Homo sapiens: one gene and its partners. The protein of the gene in region 1 purifies or fractionates together with the protein of each later gene. This does not show direct contact. Each region holds a gene or a part of one and is shown on either strand. Other genes may lie near its edges. The genes, in order: IRF2, IRF2BPL and CTSS.

Evidence for each region.
Region 2: the proteins of IRF2 (region 1) and IRF2BPL purify together in Homo sapiens (affinity purification with mass spectrometry; 4 studies listed by BioGRID and IntAct, with this or other methods). This does not show direct contact.
Region 3: the proteins of IRF2 (region 1) and CTSS purify together in Homo sapiens (affinity purification with mass spectrometry; 2 studies listed by BioGRID and IntAct, with this or other methods). This does not show direct contact.

Annotation. Positions count from the first base shown.
Region 1 is NC_000004.12:184,394,539-184,401,644, forward strand, and holds part of IRF2 (interferon regulatory factor 2), read right to left. Parts: intron 4,542-7,106; coding exon 4,377-4,541; intron 1-4,376. UniProt on the Homo sapiens protein: Specifically binds to the upstream regulatory region of type I IFN and IFN-inducible MHC class I genes (the interferon consensus sequence (ICS)) and represses those genes. Also acts as an activator for several genes including H4 and IL7.
Region 2 is NC_000014.9:77,025,607-77,033,165, forward strand, and holds the start of IRF2BPL (probable E3 ubiquitin-protein ligase IRF2BPL), read right to left. Parts: upstream 3,103-7,559; 5' UTR 2,187-3,102; coding exon 1-2,186. UniProt on the Homo sapiens protein: Probable E3 ubiquitin protein ligase involved in the proteasome-mediated ubiquitin-dependent degradation of target proteins. Through the degradation of CTNNB1, functions downstream of FOXF2 to negatively regulate the Wnt signaling pathway.
Region 3 is NC_000001.11:150,748,682-150,755,787, forward strand, and holds part of CTSS (cathepsin S isoform 1 preproprotein), read right to left. Parts: intron 6,470-7,106; coding exon 6,320-6,469; intron 3,328-6,319; coding exon 3,100-3,327; intron 1,491-3,099; coding exon 1,325-1,490; intron 1-1,324. UniProt on the Homo sapiens protein: Thiol protease. Key protease responsible for the removal of the invariant chain from MHC class II molecules and MHC class II antigen presentation. The bond-specificity of this proteinase is in part similar to the specificities of cathepsin L.

The DNA of each region.
Region 1 (7,106 bases):
ATTGTGTCTTTGCTCTGCCCAACAAAATGCAAGCCTGGTGTGGTTTCCCGAAGGATTCAAAGCCTTTACTGATGGCTGCTGGTCAGCAGGCGATCTCCACTCTCTCATTATAGCCAGTGAGTCCTTCAGATGATGTTTTCTTCTCGAGTCTACTCTCCAGCCCCTCTTACCCATCCTCCCCCACCCCATTATTCTACTGTGGTTTTCTTCTACTAAACCATCAACCACCTAATAAAATTCTGATGCCACAGATCAGGCAAGGGGTCACTTTGTAATGCACCTTTAAACATGACATGTCTCTCCGCCAGAGCTTCCCAAAGTGGCACTTTGAAATGTCCCTCCCTAGTATGAAAGTTTCACAAATCACACTAGAATTTTATGTTGTCTTAAAACATCCAACGCAAGTACTATCTCTTCTCTTTCTCATCATAATATTTAGACCACAGAGGAGAAGACAGACTTGCAAAACTGAATGTGGTTTTGTAATATACTACTGGGATTATGATTCAACGATCAGTAGGGGGAAAAACTAGCAAACAGCAGCCTCCAAATACCAGTTTCCCAAACAGATGAATAAAGGTGGTCAGAGCATGCCGGGCGCGGTGGCTCACGCCTGGAATCCCAGCACTTTGGGAGGCCGAAGCGGGTGGATCACGAGGTCAGGAGATCGAGACCATCCTGGCTAACACGGTGAAACCCCGTCTCTACTAAAAATACAAAAAAAATTAGCCGGGCTTGGTTGTGGGTGCCTGTAGTCCCAGCTACTCGGGAGGCTGAGGCAGGAGAATGGCGTGAACCCGGGAGGTGGAGCTTGCAGTGAGCCGAGATCGCACCACTGCACTCCAGCCTGGGCGACAGAGCGAGACTCCGTCTCAAAAAAAAAAAAAAAAAAAAAAAGGTGGTCAGAGGAGATTGAAATTCAGATGAACAGCCCAAACAAAGGAACTCCATCATGAAAAACAGGCAAATGGCCGACTCTACTGGAGAACATAAAGCAAGAAAGGTGAATACACGCAGAAAGCTGCCTTTCCTGACAGCATGTTATACAATTTCTGACGGAGGAACTAAAATTAGCTACAGTCAGTAGCAGGGAAATGTTTTACACCACTGTGAGCTCTAGAACATCAGCAGCGATGGAACATTTTGCCTCCAACCAGTAAGCCTCCCTCCACGAGGTTCTGGAGAATCCAGACAATGAAAACAACGGAAAGAACCAAAGGCCAGGCTGAAAAGCCAGGCTCCAGCAAAACCTCCTGTTGACTGCCATCCTGGCACTGAAATCCTTCCTTTCAAACCTATGCAAATGTCCTGAAGAGAGTAATGAAATGTTCATTTCTCTCTGCATGGATCTGCTGTTCTCCGGAATCTTTTGCTTGAGCAAATGCCACTGCTGGCAGAACAGCAAGAAGAGGTCTTTCCAGAATCCCCAAGAAGACCTCAGAAAAGTCTTACTCAACAGATAAACATAGAAGTCTATTCTAAAGCTCCAACCCCCTAAAAAAAGAAGAGAGAAAGAAAACCACATGGAGTGTAACGATGCCTGCAGCAGCAGGCTATAGAAGAAAGTCATGGGTTTTTAGCCATAACTATGTAAATATAAGCAAAGTGGCTGAGTGTTTCACGCTTCGGTTAGCTCTACTGTAAAATTTAGGCATAAACATTCTGCTCTGCCTCCTTTGGTGGGTCCTTGTGAAAATCAAATGAGATCACGGGATGTGGCTGTGTTCTGAACGGCAGAGCCCGTGCGCTGTCCAGGGCAGCGACACAGGGCGGGCGTTAAGGACCGGCCTTTGGCATCAACGGCTCATGGGTTCTAGCTGTGCTCCCAATCGTTCCTCCCTCAGACACGCTGCTCTACCCACGCCAGCCGCAGATCCATATATATATATTTTTTTTTCTTTTTTTTTTTTTTTAAGACAGGATCTCGCTCTGTCACCCAGGCTGGAGTGCAATGGTGCAACCAGGGCTCAATGAAGCCTTGAACTCCTGGGCTCAAGGGGATGCTCCTGCCTCAGCCTTCCAAGTGGCTGGGACTACGGGCACATGCCACCACACCCGGTTAACTTTTTTTATTTTTTGTAGAAGTGTGGTCTCACTATGTTGCCCAGGCTGGTCTCCAATTTCCGGGCTCAAGTGATCCTCCCACTTCAGCCTTCCAGTGCAGGGATTACAGACGTGAGCCACCACACCCAGCCAGATTCCTCACTTTTAAAAACGGGATGATGACGATACCCAGGCTGACAGGGTTACTCTAATTATAATTAAACAAGTCAACTGTATCATACCAGGCATGGCAGCTCATGCCCGTAATCCCAGCACTTTGGGAGGCTGAGGCGAGCAGATCACTTGAGCCCAGGAGTTCTAGACCAACCTGGGCAGCAAGGCAGAACCCTATTTCTATTAACAACAACAACAAACAACAACAACAACAGTCAACTGTACCCAAGCACTGAGCATGGTTCCCAGGGCACAATAAATTTGCAAAACATAGTAGTTCTTGTGACTGCACTCTGGCAAGGACCAAACAGGGACTGGCACGTGTAAGAGTCCAAAACGCATTTGCTGAATAAAGCACCGAAGACAAGCTTATCCTGTTTGACAGATTATAATCTTCCTGTGGCCAAGGTCTATTCTCACATTCCACTTACGCTCCTAGCATAAATGCACACTAGGACCTATGCTAAGTGAAATAAGCCAGTCACAAAACAACAAGCACTATGATTCCACTCATAGGAGGTACCTAGAATAGCCAAATTCACTGAGATAGAAAATAGGCAGGAGGTTGCCAGGGGCTGGGGTGGAGGAGGGAAAAGAGGACTTAGTGTTTAATGCAGACAGAGTTTCAGTTTCGCAAGATGAAAAACGTTCTGGAGGTGGATGCTGGTGATGGCTGCGACAACATTAATGCACTGAATGCTACTAAACTGTGTACCTAAAAATGGCTAAAATGGTAAATTTTATGTTAATGTATTTTACCACAATTTTTAAAAGTGAAAAAAAAAAGAAAGTTGGCATTCAGGGAAAATGAGATTAGACTTAGTGGCTGATAATTCACAAACAACAGTCCTTTGAGTCAACTCTAATTCCAACGCTGGTCGGAGCCAGTGTTGGGGGTGGCACCTACTGGAGGACATCCCATTTGGCAGCGTGTAAAGAGCACAGGGAAGAATCCCTGAACTATTTGCTAGAGCTGAACTGCAGTTTCCCAGGATGGGGACTCTGCTTTTTATTTTTAATATCTGCAAGCAGTAACACTGACTCAGAATTTATATTTCCTAATTACAATTGATTTCCACAAAATTCAATGGAGATCATCAGGAAGAGAGGAGAAGATGAAGTAATGTTGGCGAACGAGAGGAGCCATCCTTTTACTCTGGAAGAATGGAAGAACCAACTGGATCTGTTCCTCCCCCTGTGACTCTGCCTGGGCCAACTCCTGTCATTATGTAGCCAAGTCCCTGGAGAATTGGAAATGGCTCAGTCATCTGGCCTAATTAGAACCTGTACTAGATATAAAAAGAAAGAGAAAATATGTGGAAAGGACAAGTACGCTTGGTGGATGGAATGGATCTAGCAATGAGCTTGGGGTCTGAAGGCTGAGGTCAAGTCCTGGCCCAAACACTTGCTGACTGTACGACCCTGCGCAAGCCCCTTCCCTTTCAGAAATGAAGGAACAGGAAGAGATCATCTCTAAGGTCCTATCCAGCCTGCTCAAACTGAGAATCCATTAAAACACTCTGCCAAATTTCTAATAACTTGGGCTAATAAATTAGACTCTGATGAACTACTGCCCTAAAGAAATCTTATCTGTAACCATATATAAAAATGTTATGGGAGGCCAGGCACTGTGGGTCACACCTGTAATTCCAGCACTTTGGGAGGCCAAGGTGGGCGGATCACCTGACGTCAGGAGCTCGAGACCAGCCTGGCCAACATGGTGAATCCCCGTCTCTACTAAAAATACAAAAATTAGCTGGCATGGTGGTGTGCGCCTGTAATCCCAGCTACTCAGGAGGCTGAGGCAGAAGAATCTCTTGAACCTGGGAGGCGGAGGTTACAGTGAGCCGAGATCATCCCACTGCACTCCAGCCTGGGAGACAGAGCGAGACTCTGTCTCAAAAAAAAAAAAAATAAATAAATAAATAAAAAATGTCATGGCCAACTGAGTAAAGAAATGCTGTGATCCTGTCCTCTACCTGAGAACAAAAGTGTCCAAGAAGATGTTGATCAAGATAATTAAAGTATGAAAAACTCCAGGGAGAATAACTCCTAGGACAGAGGAGGGATGCTCCGTGGGGTGGTGAGATGGGTGACCCTAGACCAAAGGACTGCGCGGCCGGTTCCCACGCCTCCCGGAGCCTCCCGCTGACGCTTACCTGCATAGGAAGACACGGGGGAGATCTGCAGAGGGTAGAGCTCGCTCATGCTGACCGGCTGCTCGTCGCTCTCAGTGGTCACCTCTACAACTTGGCAAATGTCTGGCGGATTGGTGACAATCTCTTGATTCTCAATGTTGCTGTCCAGATGGGACTGTCCTACAACTTCAAAGAAAAGACAGCCATCATGCAAAGTCTGCTGACCTCACAATTCTAGCACACTTTCTCAAGAAAGAGTCTTCCCCAAAAGAGCCAGGTCGCCAGGCTCCCATCACCATCTGTCCCCTGCCATGGGGCTGAAGAACACGCCTGAGCTCTGTAGCTCTGGTGTGATGTCTCCCAGGGAGCAGCCGGCCAGCACTTGGCTCCCCAGGTCTATCTCCAGCATGCCTGCCAATGGCACGCACGGTGGCCATGTCCTTTCCAGCTCAGCAGAATTCCACAGTCAACCCCGTCACAGCCGAGGCCACAGGACCAGAGGCGGCATCCAGCCCCAGCCCCAGGGCCAGACATGACAGTACTTTGAACCTGACCGATTTCTGCTCCCTGCTCTTGCTCCAAAAGAAGGCGCTGTGCTTATTTTCTGGGTTCTACAATCCAGGGAGACATTATCAAACCTTACTAAAGAGGAAGGGCCATGAAAATCTACCCAATTGTGTCACATCTAGCTGTGTGAATGTTTGTGTTCAGGTTTTGTATGAACATAAGTTTCCATTTCTCTGGGATAAATGCCCAAGGTCCCCATCTAGCTGGGTGGCGCTCTGCTTACGCTCCCAGCTCTCTTCCTGCTCTACAGGCAACATGTCCAACTGGCTGAAATATCAGCACAATGGAATAGAGTCAGATCTCCAATTCTGGCAAACATTAGTAGCATCAGCTCCCCGGAACACTGATAAGATGGATTCTGACCACCCTGGCTCTGAAAACTGCCTCAAATATTTTTCTTATATTGTTTATTTTGAGATCATTGTAAACTCACATACAGTTGTAAGAAATAATACAGAGAGATCCTGTGTGCCTTTTACTCAACTTCTTCCAATGGTTATAGGCTACAAAGCTAGAATACAATATCGCAACCAGAGTATTGACATAAATAACAATCCACCCATCTTGTTCCGATTTCCTCAGTTTTACTTGCACTCTTTTGTGTGAGTGTGTACCTGCACCAGGACTAAGTGCAATTTTATCACACATAAAGGTTCATGTACCTACCACCACTGTCAAAACACCAAACAGTTCCATCACGACCAATCTCTCTCACGTTACTCTTTGTAACCATAGCCACCTTCCTTCAGTACCTCCCCATCCATCTCTTTGTCCATGACCCCTGGGCAACTATTAATCTGTTCCCCATTTCATTAATTTGTTCATTTCAAGGATGTTATATTAATGGACTCATACAGTAGACTTTTGGGGCTGGCTTTTTTTTTACTCAGCATAATTCACCGCAGAGTCACCCAAGTTGTTGTGTGTATCAGTCATCGGTTCCTTTTCAATTGCCGAGTAGTATTCCACGGTATAGGTGTACCAGTGTGTTTATTCTCCCCTCTGAAGGATGTCTGAGTTGCTACAAGCCTTTGACTATTACAAATAATGCTGCTATGGATGTTTGTGTTCAGGTTTTGTATGAATATAAGTTTCCATTTCTCTGGGATAAATGCCCAAGAATGCAATTGCTGAGTCATATGGTAATTTCATGTTTAATTTTACAAGAAAATTGCCAAACTGCTTCCCGGAGTGACCGTGCCATTTTACATTCCCACCAGCAGTGTCTGAGTGATCAAATTTCTCCACAGCCTCGGCAGCATTTCGTGTCATCACTGTTTATTTATTTTGGCCATTCTCATAGGTAAGTCATGATGTTTCATGGCCATTTTAATTTGAAGGTCCCTAAGGTCCTGCCCTCATTTTGAATGAAACTGACCTCATACCACTGTTAGTTGGATGAAATGTCCCTGAAAATTAGCTTCAATAAATAAAGGTGAAGAAATAATTCCCAAGGTCCTCAAAGCACTTTGCCACCATCATCAACGTTTTACTCATACCTGTATCTGTTATTTTAACATTTTAACCCATAAGGATGACAGAGAAAGCATCGTTATCCTGTTATAGATGAAGAAACTCAGGCACAGAGAGGGAGAGTGACTTGTCCAGACTCGCACAGCTTGGAGTATATGTGGTGCTCTATGTTGCAGTCATTTTCTCACCAATCGGCAAAGTATTCAGGTTAGAACGCATTCCAGTCTCCTTGAGACGCCAGGCGTCATGGAGAGGCTCGTTTTAATCACTCCAAGTATTTTATTTTCTGAAGTATTTTTGTTTATAAACAGGTTCCTGTTTTAATTGCTGTCTGTGGAGTGACAAGCACATTATCTGATTTCTACGCAGGGAAGGTTTTAGAGGGCAGTGGCAATTCATAGGTTCTTTAATAAAGAAAGGAAAGGCACAAAAGAGGCTCAGAAAGGGGATTTGGGGCTGTGATACAAGAGTCCAAAAGCCACAGCATACAGAATGGAAGGGAAACCGGATCCTGTTTAGGTTTTCCTGGTGGGGATAAAATTAAAGAAAAGGCAGGCAGGCTATATATGGCAGGCAGACTCCCAAGCCCATTTATTTCATCCTTTGGATTATCCTACGTGAGGGTGAGGACATCAATTATGCAGGTCACTAGACACAGACTGACGCTGACCTACACCAACCTCTCTCTAGTTTCCTCTGCCTCTTCCAGCC
Region 2 (7,559 bases), on another chromosome or scaffold:
TGAACGAAATGCGTATCCTCCAAACGTTCGTGGCAAATGGTGCAGCAGAGGGGTCCGCTGTTGGCCATGGGGGAATCCGGAATGTTTTGGGGGTGCACTTGGTCCATGCCCGGGTGGGCGCTAGGCGGCGGGGGCGCCACCTGTAAATTCAGGTCCCCGTTACGTGATGCCAAGCGGCGCTGCCCCGGCACGGAGGCCGGCGAGACTGGGCTGCTGCTGTTTCGCCGCGCCGACGCAGTGGTAGAGTGCACGGAACTGCCATCCTTGGGCGAGTGCGCTGTGCCCAGAGTATCTGCCACCGACATGAGAGCGGCCATAGGGGACGGACCGTTCTGGGGGGCTGACTCAGGTGGGGTGGTCCGGTTGGAATGGGGTCCCAGAGGTGGGGGCGGCGGAGGCGGACCCCCCGCCGCGTGCCCCGGCGCCGCGAAGCCCCCGGCGGACATGGTGAGCTTCAGCGCCTCGCTCTGGTTCGCCATCCACTGCTGCCTCTGCTGTTCCTCGCCCAGCTTCAGCGCGCCCTCGGCTGAGTCCGGGGGCTCCGGAGAGGCCTTTCTCTTGCGCAGGCTGGCGGCTGCGCCCCGGCCCGACGGCGCGGCGGGCGGCAAGGCCCCGGTCCCCGGGGGTGCGCTGGGGGCGCGGCTCAGACTCACCAGAGCAGTGGGCAGCATGGGACAGCTGGCGTCCAGGTAGGGCTGGGGCAGCATGTCGGCGCCGGGCACGCCCTCCTTGAAGAAGCGCACGGCTTCGGGGAGCAGGTCTCCAAGCAGGCGCCAGTCCCCGGAGCCGTGCTTCTTTTCGTACTCCAGGTACTTGAAACCCGAGGATAGGCCCCGGCCGAAGTCCTTCATGCAGTCCTGATACATCTGCTTGGCCACACCAGATGCACTGGAGTACACGTTGCCCGAGCCCGTGGGGTACTCAATGAACAGCTTCAATTCGTAGTCCATGCCGGGCTTGGAGACGGCGTCGAAGGCGAAAACGCGGCCCAGCAGCGAGTGGTCCTTCTTGAAGCGAACCTCGTAGGGCGTGCAGCCTGCCAGCGTGAGCAGCGTGTCGCGGACCATCTTGGGCTTGCTGGCCCACTCCTCGGCGCGGTTGCGCAGGCTCTCGCTCAGCTCGGCCAGGGCCTCGGCGTTGCGCTGCTTCTCCTTCAACTCGCGCTCCTGGTCTGTGCTCGACACCGAGCCGGGCCTCTTACCACCAGCACCCACGCCCACCTCTGCCACCGACGAAGAGGTCGAAGACGACGCGGAGGACGACGTGGCCGATACACCCGGGGTACCCCCGAGACAAGCGGGGCCCCCAGGAGCCCCTGGGGGAGCAGGCGTCGGGGGCCCACGGCTGCCCAGGGCGTGGGGAGGGGGTGGGGGGAGTACCGCAGCGCTGGCCGGGCCGTTAAGCAGCGTCTGCGGTAGCAGGTTGGGGGGCACGGTGAGCTGGGGGCCTCCGCCACCCCCCGGGTTGGGCAGCCCCGTAACCAGCCCACCGTGCGTTCCACGCCGAGACGCCACCGACGCCGCCGCTGAAGAAGAATTGGGGCTCTGACGGTTCAGCTCTGGGGGTCCCTCCTCTGGTGTTGGTTTGGGGAAGCCGTTTGGGCCCCCCAGGCCGTTGGGCAGTCGCGCGGTGTGGCTGCTGCTTCCCAGGCTCACCGGCGGTGGCGGGTACTCGAAGCGGCTGCGCTGTTCCACCGCAGCGGCGGCGGCGGCGGCGGCGGCGGCGGCAGCGCTTAGGCCGTAGCGCTCCAGGCCAGACGGGGCCGCCAGCACCGCAGGCTTGCTGGAACCATCAACGTGGTTGAGCTGTTGTTGCTGCTGCTGCTGCTGCTGCTGCTGCTGCTGTTGCTGCTGCTGCTGCTGCTGTTGCTGTTGCTGTTGCGCGGCGGCGGCGGCGGCCGCCGCTGCTGCCGCCGCCGCCGCCGCTTCCTTAGCCGACAGGGCCACTGTCTTGACCCCGACGGGCGGCGGCGGCCCGGGGGAGCGGCCGTCCTGGAAGCAGCCGTGCGCCCGCTTCAGCTGGCGCGCTGTCTCGATCACGAATTCGATGCGATCAGCGCCCTCGTAGTTGACGCAACCGCGGCATACGGGTTCCGAGAAGTCCCAGATCATGGCCCAGGGCATGCGGGGCAGGTCGCACAGGTAGCAAGATTGTCTCCGGGACGAGGACACCTGCGCCGCCGACATGATGCCTGCCCTGGGGAAGGTAGGCCCCCGCCCGGGCTGTCTCCGCGGCGCCTTCTCCTCCGGGAGGACTGGCCGGCTGGGGAGGGAGTCCGACTGCGGGGGAGGGAGGAGGGGGGGCGAGAAAGTTCTGCCCCAGGGGCTGGAGGGAACGCGAGTCTCCACCGCCGGCGCAGCGCCTCGCCGTGGGGGCTCCACCGCCCGGGCAGCGGACGGGTTCAGCCCTCTCTTCGCCCCCACCTCCTACTGCGGTTGACTCGTCGCGAGGGGAGCTCAGGCGCCTTCTTCCTGGTGCTGCAGACTTGGGCTGGAAGCTCCCGGCCCGAGGGGAGGGGGCGAGGGTGCCCGGTGGTGGCCGCCGTTGCCTCTTGGCCCCCTCCCCGGAGTGGCTGGTGCGTGGAAGCTCGAAAGGGGCTGTCTCTTCCTCTCCCCGGGGACCCCCCTACGAGCTGCGTCCTCTCCCCGACGGGCCCCCTGGGGCGAGGGCCAGAGGGTTCAGTGCCACCCGGTGCCCGGGTCCAATCTTGCTGAAGCCGCTGCTTCCCCGGAGGACCGGGGGAGGGGGTGGCAGCCGAGAAAGGACCTTCTCCCCTCCGCAGCGTCGGCCGTTCTGCTGGCGGCGACTGGGTTTGCACCCCGGAGGGAGCCGCCGCGGCCACTGCTTCCAGGACGCACGAGAGCAGAGGAGAGGAGTGCACGCACGCAGGCTCCCGCCGCCCCCAGGCCTGGCCGGCGCCCGGGCCGCCGCGGCTGGCGGCGCTCACGTTGGCTGCAGGGCGCTCGCGCGGCGCCTCGGCCCGGGTCGCATCCCTTCCCGCTCGTGCTCACGCTCGCCCGGAATGTGGGGTTGTGATTGTTACTCTACGTTCCGGAGGCGCGTCTCGGCGCTCCTGCTCCGGCTGCGGCTCGCGCTGTCCCCGGCTTGGCCGCGCGGGATGCCGCCCGGGCGGAGCGCTGACGTCACCGCCATGCTCTGCACCAGTTCTTCCCCCTCCCCTTTACACTTCCTCTGTGGAGCCCACTTGTTGCTCAGGCAAGGCGCATGCGCGGCAGGACGCCCAGATTCCTCCCAGCCGGCCCCTCCTCCGCGCCTCCGCCCTCCCCTCCCCCCTCGCCGTGTGTGTACAACAGCTGAGGCCCGGCGAGCTAATGCTGGAAGTCCAGAGCTGGGGGTGGAAATTAAACAGACGATGACCTTTCCTTTCCCTGCCGGGCATTCCCAAGTAAAAACGCATTTAAGAACCACTAGCGTCGTTTCCGATCCCTGCTCCCCACCCCACCCCCAAGCCTCGGCAGTGAATTTAAATGTCCTGTTTCAGGATTTTTCGCCGTGAATTTCGTATAAGGTATTAACCATTTCATCTGCGGTTGAACCTTATCCCCCCCGGCATGGATGTTAAATTCATCGCCACCACTGATGCCGAAGCACCTGCAAAATTAGCTGTTTTCCAATCTTCCAGAAATTGTCTTTTCTATTTGTTTTTGTGCCCTGATCTAGGAACCCGGGCTTCAACGATAGAGCTAAATGAATTCAGAGTGCGCTACCCTTCCCCCCAGCCGCACTTTAAAAATTTTGGCTGAACGTCTGAAGAAGATACGAGCACCCCGAGGCCTTTAAGGAAAACAGGCAACTGGCTGCGCACAGCTGCAGTTCAGGGCAGGGAGGGGGAGGGGCCGGAGAGGCCAAACAGGTGAGTGTTTTTTCTAGAGTTTGATTTTTAAAAGGTGGAGGCAGCATTTAATAATACTGATACATTTTTGTAAAGCACAGCCGCAGTTTTCAAAGTTCTTTCTCAGGCGCTGTGATCTCACTCCATGTTGCCCCAGAAGGCGGAACAAGGCCGTGATTTTTTTTTTTTTTTTTTTTTAAGACGGAGTCTTGCTCTGTCGCCCAGGCTGGAGTGCAAAATGGCGCGATCTCGGCTCACTGCAACCTCTGCCTCGCAGGTTCAAGCGATTCTTCCGCCTCAGCCTCCCAAGTAGCTGTGATTACCGGCACCCGCCATCAGGCCCAGCTAATTTTTTGTATTTTTGTAGAGACATGGTTTCACCATGTTAGCCAGCTGGTCTTGAACTCCTGACCTCAGGTGATCCTCCCGCCTCGGCCTTCCAAAGTGCTGGGATTACAAGCATGAACCACCACGCCCGGCCAAGGCCGTGATTTCTTCTGCCTTACAAGATCACTGCTCATCAGTATTGCTTATGGCACGATGGATATGTTGGTCATAGCTCTAGTTGGGGCATTTCTATTGATTATTCTAATTATTGGGTTTGCTTTTTTTTTTTTTTTTATTTCATGAAAACTGAGATAATCCCAGGGAAGGCTGGAGAAGGGAAAGCAATATAATGGGATTTCGGATTCTGAAGTGTGGCCCACCAGATTGAAATTTCCTCTCCATCACTAACTGGCTCTCCACCCTTAAGCTAGTTACCCACAAAATCTCTCTTTTCCATGGAAAAGAGAATGGAATGATAGCTCCCAGGTTGTTAGGGTTGTTTGAGATTTCAACTTCGGTTTTTTGTTTTTTTGAGATAGGATCTTGTTCTGTTGCCCAGGCTGGAGTGCAGTGGCACACTCGCGGCTGGCAGCAGCCTGACCTCCCAGGCTCAAGTAATCCTCCCACCTCAGCCTCCCTAGTAGCTGGGACTACAGGCATGTGCCATTACACCTGGCCAATTTTTTTGTATTTTTGGAAAGGGATGGGGTTTTGCCGTGTTGCCCAGGCTGGTCTCAAACTCCTGGGCCCAAGTGATGCACCCACCTTGGCCTCCCAAAGTGTTGGGATTACAGGCATGAGCCACCTCACCCGGCCTCAATTTGTTTCTTGTCATAAGAAGAGATAACGCTTACTTAGACTTGCCGTGGGACCTTAGTAAACTAGGTGGCTTTACTTGCATCACCCTTAATATTATCTACATTATTAAGGGGATATTATCTATAGTATTTTGTTGTTGTTTTGAGACAGAGTCCACTCTGTCACCCAGGCTGGAGTACAGTGACGCAATCTCAGCTCACTGCAACCTCCACCTCCCAGGTTCAAGCAATTCTCCTGCCTCAGTCTCCCAAGTACCTGGGGATACAGGCGCCCGCCACCACACCCAGCTCATTTTTGTATTTTTAGTAGAGACGGACTTTCACCATGTTGGCCAGGCTGGTCTCGAACTCCTGACCTCAGGTGATCCTCCCGCCTCAGCCTCCCAAAGTGCTGGGATTACAGGCATGACCCACCGTGACCGGCCTATTACAGTATTAAACCCTTAATATTATCTACAGGGTAGATTCTTTTACCTCCATTTTACAAACCAGGAAAGTAAAGAGGCTATATAACTTGCCTACAGCCATTAGTGATGGGGCTGGGATTTGAATCCAGTAAATCTGATTTGAGGTGTCTTTGACAAGCTCAGGCTTGCAGAGGTGGTTTGGGGTGCTCAAAATTCCCATCAGCCCCAGTTGATTTGGTGTTACATACAATCTTACGTAAGTACTATGCCAATACACCTTCATAACCAACCCCCAGCCTCCCCTTCCAAGCGCATTTGTACCACTGAGTTCTATATACAGAAGTTGTAGATCTGTCACTACCAGACTGTAACTTAAATACACCATACAGAATGGAGAGCAGTGTTGGACTCACAGTTAGTGTTAGTTATTATTAGTATTGATACTAGTGTTGGTACTATTGCTGGTTGACATGTGACAGTACTTAGTAAACTGCATAAATTGTGAGGATCACTATTATCACTCTTATTACTAGTAATTGCAATAAAGTTCAGTGGAAGCAACAAGAGATACTTACTTTTATTTTGACACTTGACTTCCAGAGCCTGTTCCCCTATCCAACCCTCCCCAGAGCCCCAATCTCCCACTCATTCTGGGGCCCCTGAGTGCAAAGGAAAGGCGAGTTTTTAAGGACAGAAGAGGAGGAGGAGCCCTAGGGAGCCCCTCTTTCATCTCAAAGCAGCCAGATTTCTGTTTTTGCAAAACAGTGAGCTCACTGTGCACTCTAGAGCAATAATAAACTTTCTCTGGCCTGCTGGCACTTTGCAGTGATTCCTCTGCAAAGAGTTGCTTGGGGAGCATTGCCTCACTCTCCCAGACTTCAGCCCTCCCCACACTACCGCTACCCTGGAGTGAGTCAAAACATAGGGGTGGGAAATGGTTTGACATCCCCGCCAGCCTGGGGCTCCTTAGCTTTGGCTCGGTTGGGTGACCCATTTCTTTACATTAATATTTATTCAGCCCTTCCCTTTATTAAACCAAAAATATTAGGGAAATAGCAACTTAGCCACAACCCTCCAGCCAGGCTGCTAGAGAAAGCAAGTTGGATTCTATGTCATGGTGTTATGTTTGGTATGCACACACATATGTCTCCATCTCCCTGTCTGTCTCTGTCTTCACTGTTACTAAAGGAGATATATATACACACATACATGCTGGGGTGCCTTCAGACACACTGAGTTAGAAATCAACGTGTATTTAAACAGACTTCCATTACAGACTCATAATCCTTTCATTTATAAAACACAGCTGTCTCCAAACCGCCCCCCCCCCCCCAACCAAAAAAAAGAATCAACATCATTTGTGGTATCTCTTGTTGCCTGAGATGGCCGTTTGGGGATGTGTGAGAGACGGTGAGAGGCTAGAACTCCAGTGTTCTGGAGGTGGGTTTTCTCCCTGAAGAAGAGTCCCGTGGAACAAAACTATGACAACGGTGGAAAGGAACTGGAAAGGATTTGGGAGGGGGGTGGTGGAGGTGGAGGAGCCTCAACGTAAACTGCCAGGTGTAGAGACTCAAAGAACTCTGTCCATGGGGTCTGGGAGACAAGCAGAGACTAGCAGAGCCGGGCGCCAAACGGCGGCATCATCTTCCCAAAGTTCCTTCCTACTGTCGCTTTCCCCACCCAGCTTGCCATCTGGGCTGGCATCCTCAGAGAACCCTGCTCTAAACTGGAGCAAAAGGTCAGCTTTCCACCTGGCCTTGCCGGAGCACCATAGCCCAAGGTTACTAGTGGTGAGAAGGTCGCCAGGCGCGCACTTCGAAGCTCCCTGCACTCTCTCTCCTGCCCCCGCCGTTTTGTGGCAGAGACGGGGCGCGGGTGTGTGTGTGTGTTGCGGAGGGGGGGCTCTTGGCCTGGCAGCCCTGCAGTCAGCTGGCTCAACCTTCAAGGAGGCCCGGGCTGAACCTCGCGTCACCCTGCTGCAACGCGCGCCGCCAAGCGCTCCAGCGAGAGAAAGGCCTTTTTTGGTAACAGCCCCGCGGTAAGCGGGACCCACTTCTCTGGCCTGCGAGATCCGCCTTGGAGAAGATGAAAACAAACGTCTGCGTTGGGCCCTCCTCTGGCCTTTCGATGGCCCCTGATCGCCGCGCGCCAGGA
Region 3 (7,106 bases), on another chromosome or scaffold:
AGTCATCCTCCTGATTTGGCCTCCCAAAGCGCTGGAATTATAGGCATGAGCCACTGCACCCAGCTAGATATTGCATTTTTTACAAATTGAAGGTTTGTGGCAACTCTACATTCAGCAAGTCTATTGGTACCATTTTCCCAAAAGCATGTGCTCACATTGTGTCCTTGTACCACATTTTGGTAATTCTCACAATATTTCAAACTTTCTCATCATTATTATATCTGTTATGGTCATCTGTGATCAATGATCTTTGATGTTACTTCATAATTTTGAGGGTGAGCTACAAACCACACCTATATAAGATAGCAGACTTAACCCACAAATGTTGTGTGTGTTCTGACTGATCCACGGACTGGCCACACCCCCATCTCTCTCCTCAGGCCTCCCTGTTCCCTGAGACACAATGATATTGAAATTATGCCACATGATAACCCTATGATAGCTTCTAAGTGTTCAAGTAAAAAGAAAAGTTGCATATCTCTCACTTTAAGTCAAAAGCTAGATGTGATTAAGCTTAGCGGGAAAGGCATGTTGAAAGCCAAGACAGGCCAGAACCTAGCCTAGGCCACTTGTACCGAACAGTCAGGCATGCTGTGAATGTAAAGGAAAAGTGCTTGAAGGAAATTAAAAATGCTGCTCTGCTGAACACACAAATGACAAGAAAGTGAAACAGCCTTATTGCTGATACAGAGAAAATGTGAGTGGTCTAGATACAAGAGTAAGCCAGCCCAGCATGCCTTTACGCCAAAACCTAATCCAGAACAAGACCCTAACTCTCTTCTATTGTAAGAAGGCTGAGAGAGGCGAGGAAGCTACAGAAGAAAAGTTTGAAGCCAGCAGATGTTGGTTCATGAGGTTTAAAATTGCCTCGCCTCACCCCGCCCCGCCTCACCCCGCCCCGCCCCGCCCCGCCCCACCTTGCCCTGCCCTGCCCTGCCCTGCCCCTCTTTCTTCCTTCTTTCTCTTTCTTTCTTCCTTGTTTTTTAGAGACAGGTTTTCACTCTGTTGCCCAGGTTGGAGTGCAGTGGTATGATCATAGCTCACTGTAACCTCAAATTCCTGGGTTCAAGGAGTCCTCCTGCCTCACCCTCCCAAGTAGCTGAGACTACAAGTGAGTGTCACCATATCCGGCTAATTTTTATTTTTATTTTTCGTAGAGATAAGGGTCTCGCGATGTTGCTCAGGCTGGTGTCAAACTCCCAGGCTCAAGCAATCCTCCCACCTCAGCCTCCAAAGCTAGAATTACAGGCATGAACCACCGTGCTCAGCCAATATCCTTTCTTTCTTTCTTTAAATTCTAATTATTGTTTATTTTATTTTTTACCACTTCTGTAGAGGAAGAAAGAAGGATGACGCGCATCTACACCAACAGACACTGGGCCTTTATTGGCCACAGCTTCTTTCAGGACATCTTCTCTGCCATAAGGAAGTTCAGTGTACTTTGAACATGTGGCAGCACGATATTTTGAGTCATATTGACATTTCTGATCCTGCAAAAAGAAGTATAAATATGATGAAGTATACTTCAACTCCTGTATAAATCACCTGTATCCTAAGCCTGGATTTTAAATGTCTCCCTTCCTTTCTTTAACTTTTTCATGTGTCTAAGGCTCCTTCCTTTGCAAATCTTCCAAATCCTAACAGTCCCGGGTTTCAGCAATAATGGAGGAAATACAGAACTATTCTATTCTTTCAAATTGTGAACATCCTCATACATGCAAAACTTGCCAGGACAATGGCCCCTCAGACTTTCAGGTGGACTGTAGGGAAATATTACATAGAGATAATAAACTCTAGATGAGAGCTTTAAAATCTTTTTGATGCCTGCAAGATGATCTGCAGCTAAAATGATGGTATATAAAGACCATATAATATGGGAAACACAAGTATTTCAAGTGGGAAAAGGAAAGTTACAAATTCATGTTTGTTGTATATACAACTATTTTGTATTTATTTATATTATTTATTTTTTTGAGATAGGCTCTCACTCCATTGTCCAGGCTGGAGTGCAGTAGCATAATCATGGCTCACTGCAGCCTCCAACTCCTGGGCCAAGTGATTCTCCCACCTCAGCTTCCTGAGTAGCTGGAACTGCTACTCAGGTGTGCACCACCATGCCTGGCTAATTTTTTTGATTTTTAGTAGAGGTGAGGTCTCACTATGTTGCACAGGCTGGTCTCAAACTCTTGAGCTCAAGCAATCCTCCCACCTCGACCTCCCAAAGTGCTGACATTACAGGTGTGAGCCACCACACTTGGCCAACTATGTTTTTTAAGTGCTTAACAAGAAAATAACTTGAAAGAAATAAACCAAAACAATAGTGGTTAAGGTAGAAGGTTTTTGAGTGATATTTTTATATTTTTAAAATCTTCTGTAACATGGACACAATCCTTAGGTTATCGTTATATCAAAATGTATAATGAATTTCTGAGGAAGAGGAGAGTGTTATTTAGCTTCTCAGTGGGTGGAAGAATGATGTGGTTAATGATCTGAGAATAAGGTTGAGCATGGGAGGCTGCAGAAGAAAAAGTTTAAATACAGAGAAATAATTTTAAGGATAGTTTGCTTAAAATCTGTTTAATTTTGGGATGGAGTCTTGCTCCGTTGCCGAGGCTGGAGTACAGTGGCGTGATCTCGGCTCACTGCACCTCCACCTCCTGAGTTCAAGCGATTCTCCTGCTTCAGCCTCCCGAGTAGCTGGGACCACAGGCATGCACCACCATGCCTGGCTAATTTTTGTATTTTTGGTAGAGACAGGGTTTCACCACGTTGGCCAGGCTGGTCTCAAACTCCTGACCTCAGGTGATCCACCCACCTCGGCCTTCCAAAGTGCTGAGATTATAGGTATGAGCCACTACGCCCAGTCATTAAAATCTGTTTTTAAGCATGAATGCTACTTCCTTATTTGTACTACTGATATATTAAGAAGAGTACTTCATCAGAAACAGAACTCTTGAGAATTTAAGAATTCCTCTTCAGGGTTCTCTCTCACACACAATACTGCTTCTCAAGCAATTGGCATGGTGGCAAGCCCAGCACAGTCAGTCAGTGGATAACATGAGATCATGGGGCAGCACAAAAAGTTTGCTTAAGACGCACCATGGCTTTGTAGGGATAGGAAGCGTCTGAGTCGATGCCCTTGTTATCAATGATGTACTGGAAAGCCGTTGTCATGAAGCCACCATTGCAGCCTTTGTTTCCATATTTTTCAGTTGAGCAATCCACCAGGTTCTGGGCACTGAGAGACACCAGCTTTCCTGTTTTCAGCTTCAGCTGTGCTTCCAGGGCCCCCACAGCACTGAAAGCCCAGCAAGCACCACAAGAACCCTAAAACAGATACAAGGTCACAAACGCAAATCACAGAAAATCATTCGGAATGACTTCCATAACCCAAACTGGACAACGCTCAGCTACATCAGTTCTGTCCCTAGTTCCCAGAAAGAGCTCCCCCACTACAGTTTCCTTCTGTCTTTAACAATGGGAATGAAGACTAAATTTAACTCAATTGTTATCTAGGCAAGGTCCAACCTTGATAGAGATTTGCAATCAGCCAAGCTCAGAACATAATGGCCATATTCAAATATACTTAGAAACAATACTCACTGAGCATGTACCAAATTGCACCTATTTTCACCCATAAGTAAGGGAGATAGTTGCCTACAGTAATGAGATTTTGAGAGAGCTAGGATGATTTCCTTGACCTAAAATACCCTTTCTCCTGTCATATGATGCCTGAAACATAAGAAGTTTAATCCTAGGTTGGCATTTTTCAAACCTTTGTTATCTTCAGAATTTTTTTGATTAAAAAATATTTTACAAGGAGGCATAAACAAACAAAAAAAGGCAAAGCTGCTTTAGTTTTAAAAGGGGCAGAGTGTCCAGAGCCCCATCATAATTGTTCTCTTTCTCTCTCCTTCCCTCCTCCCACCTTGCTCTCCACCAAAAGGAAGCAAACTGACATTGCTTTTGATTGAAGCAAAATTGTTCATTAAAATGCAAGCACCCAGAGAAAGGAGCTCATTAACTTACTCAGAGTTAACATCTAAATATGTGGTTTATTGGGTCTTCTAAAAGCTGTTATTTTAGAGAACCTCGGGTAAGAAATCCAAAACTAATTGAAAGAAAAATATGTAGGTGGAAAAGAATAAGAGATTAGCAGTACCATTTACTTCTTTTTGTTTGTTTGTTTTGAGACAGGGTTTCCTTCTGTCACTCAGACTGAAGTGCAGTGGTGTGATCATGGCTCACTGTAGCCTCAACCTCCCAGGCTCAAGCGATCCTCCCATCTCAGCCCCTCAAGTAGCTGGGACTACAGGAGCGCACCATGCCTGGCTAATTTTTATTTTTATTTTTTGTAGAGTCAGGGCCTCACTATATTGCCTAGGTTGGTTTCTAACTCCTGGGCTCAAGCGATCCTTCTGCCTCTGCCTCCCAAAGTGCTGGAATCACAGATGTGAGCCACTGTGCCTGGCCACCATTTACTTCCTAATAAATTTTTACTTTCTTCATTGATCACAACCTGGGGTAGCTGCTCAGAATGCTTTGATTCCTCTCACTTACCCTGACCTCTATGGTGATACATGTGTTTTACCTCTAACTAATTTAGGATTTTTGCAATTTTTTTAAAACAAGCAAACTAAAGGAAAATACAACAGCATAGGAACAATAATTTTACAAGGCACATATTTCATATTCTAACGATGCAAGACTAGCCATGAATTAACTTGAGTGGCTCAATTTATAGAACACTCTATCTCTAGTTCTTTCTTCTCCTTCAACTTTGAAACTCACAAGTGAAATGGAGAAACTTCCTGATCACCAGGGCTCTCTCACACAACACTGCTTCTCAAGCAATTGGCTTATTGGAGAGTCCAGTGCAGTCAATGCATAGCGTGAGCAATAAAAGTCTGTGTTAAACACCTATTTGCTTAGTTCAGTGTTTGTCTAAGTAGGTGGCTCTATGATCACTTAGAAAAGCACTGTGGGGGCTGAACACGAGGGCTCATGCCTATAATCCCAGGACTTTGGGAGGTGGAGGTAGGAGGATCACTTGAGCTCAGGAGCTTGAGATCAGCTTGGGCAACATGGCAAAACCCATCTCTGCTAAAAATACAAAGAAAAAAAAAGTGGTGGTGTGTGCCTGTAGTCACCGTGTAGGCTGAGATGGGAGGATCACTTGAGCCCAAGAGGCAGAGGTTGCAGTGAGCCCAGATCGCACCACTGCAGTCCAGCCTGGGCAACAGAGGGAGACCCTGTCTCAAACAAAACAAAACAAAACAAAACAAAAACCACTGTGGAGAATCCAGTTGTCCCTCAGTATCCACAAGGGATTGGTTCCAGGACCTCTGAGCATACCAAAGTCAAGAATTTTCAAGTTCCTTATATAAATTACTGAGTATTCGCATATAACCTACACATCCTCCTATACACTTTTTTTTTTTTTTTTTTTTAAGACAGGGTCTCACTCTATCGCCCAGGCTGGAGTGCAGTGGCAAGATCTCAGCTCACTGCAACCTCTGCCTCCCAGGTTCAAGTGATTCTCCTGCCTCACCCTCCCGAGTAGCTGGGATTACAGGCGCCCACCACCACGCCAGGCTAATTTTTGTATTTTCAGTAGAGACGGGACTTCACCATGTTGGCCAAGCTGGTCTCGAACTCCTGACCTCAAGTGATCTGCCTCCCTTGACCTGGAAAAGTGCTGGGATTACAGGCATGAGCCACTACGCCCGGCCCTCCCTTATACTTTACCTTTTTTTTTTTTTTTGAGATGGAGTCTCGCTCTTTAGCTCAGGCTGGAGTGCCATGGTGTGATCTCAGCTCACTGCAACCTCTGCCTCCCAGGTTCAAGTGATTCTCCTGCCTCACTCTCCTGAGTAACTGGGATTATAGGCATGTGCCACCAGGCCCAGTTAATTTTTGTATTTTTAGTAGAGACGGGGTTTCATCATGTTGGCCAGGCTGATCTGGAACTCCTGGCCTCAGGTGATGCGCCTGCCTCAGCCTCCCAAAGTAATGGTATTATAGGCGTGAGTGCCTGGCCTATTTTTTATTTTCATTTTTTTCTGGATATTTTTGATCCACGGTTGGTGGAATCTGCAGATGTGGAAGCTGTGGATATGGAGGGCCAACTGTATAAATAAAATATAATATGTGATCCTTGCCCTTAAGGAACTTATAATTTAGTTGGGAAGACAAGAATAACAAAAATAACTAGAAAGTAACACGTGGGACTGTAAGATTCACTGTCAAATTCTGTAGCTAGACTAAGCATTTAAAGAGCTCTACCTAGGGTTCAGAGGCTTGGGATGGTAATACTCACTTGATATTTCACTTCAGTAACACACCCTTTCTCTCTCCAGTCCACAGAATCAGGCAATATCCGATTAGGGTTTGACTTATATGTGATATTTCTCTGCCACTGGCTGGGAACTCTCAGGGAACTCATCAAAGACATCACTTCTTCACTGGTCTACAAAGCAAATATACAGTCAGGCATTGTTTAATGACTGGAATATGTTCTGAGAAATGCATCGTTAGGTGATTTTGTCATTGTGAAAACACCATAGTGTGTACTTACACAAACCTAGAGCGTATTGGCTCCTACATACCTAGGCTGTATGGTAGGGCCCATTGCTCCTAAACTACAAACCTGCACGGCATGGTACTGTACTGAAGGTTGTAGGCAATTGTAGAACAATATGAAGTACTTGTGTATCTAAATATATCTAAACATAGAAAAGGTAGAGTGAAAATACAGTATAAAAAGTAAAAATGGGAGCTGGGCATGGTGGCTCACGCCTGCAATCCCAGCACTTTGGGAGGCCGAGCCGGGCAAATCACCTGAGGTCAGGAGTTCAAGACCAGCCTGGCCAACATGGTGAAACCCCATCTCTACTAAAAATACAAAAATTAGCTGGGCATGGTGGTGCATGCCTGTAATCCCAGCTATTTGGGAGGCTGAGGCAGGAGAATCACTTGAGCCTGGGAGGCGGAGGTTGCAGTGAGCTGAGATCGCGCCAGTGCACTCCAGCCTGGGCGACAGAGTGAGACTCCATCTCAAAGAAAAAAAAAAAAAGTAAAAATGGTACTTCTATATAGGTCATTTA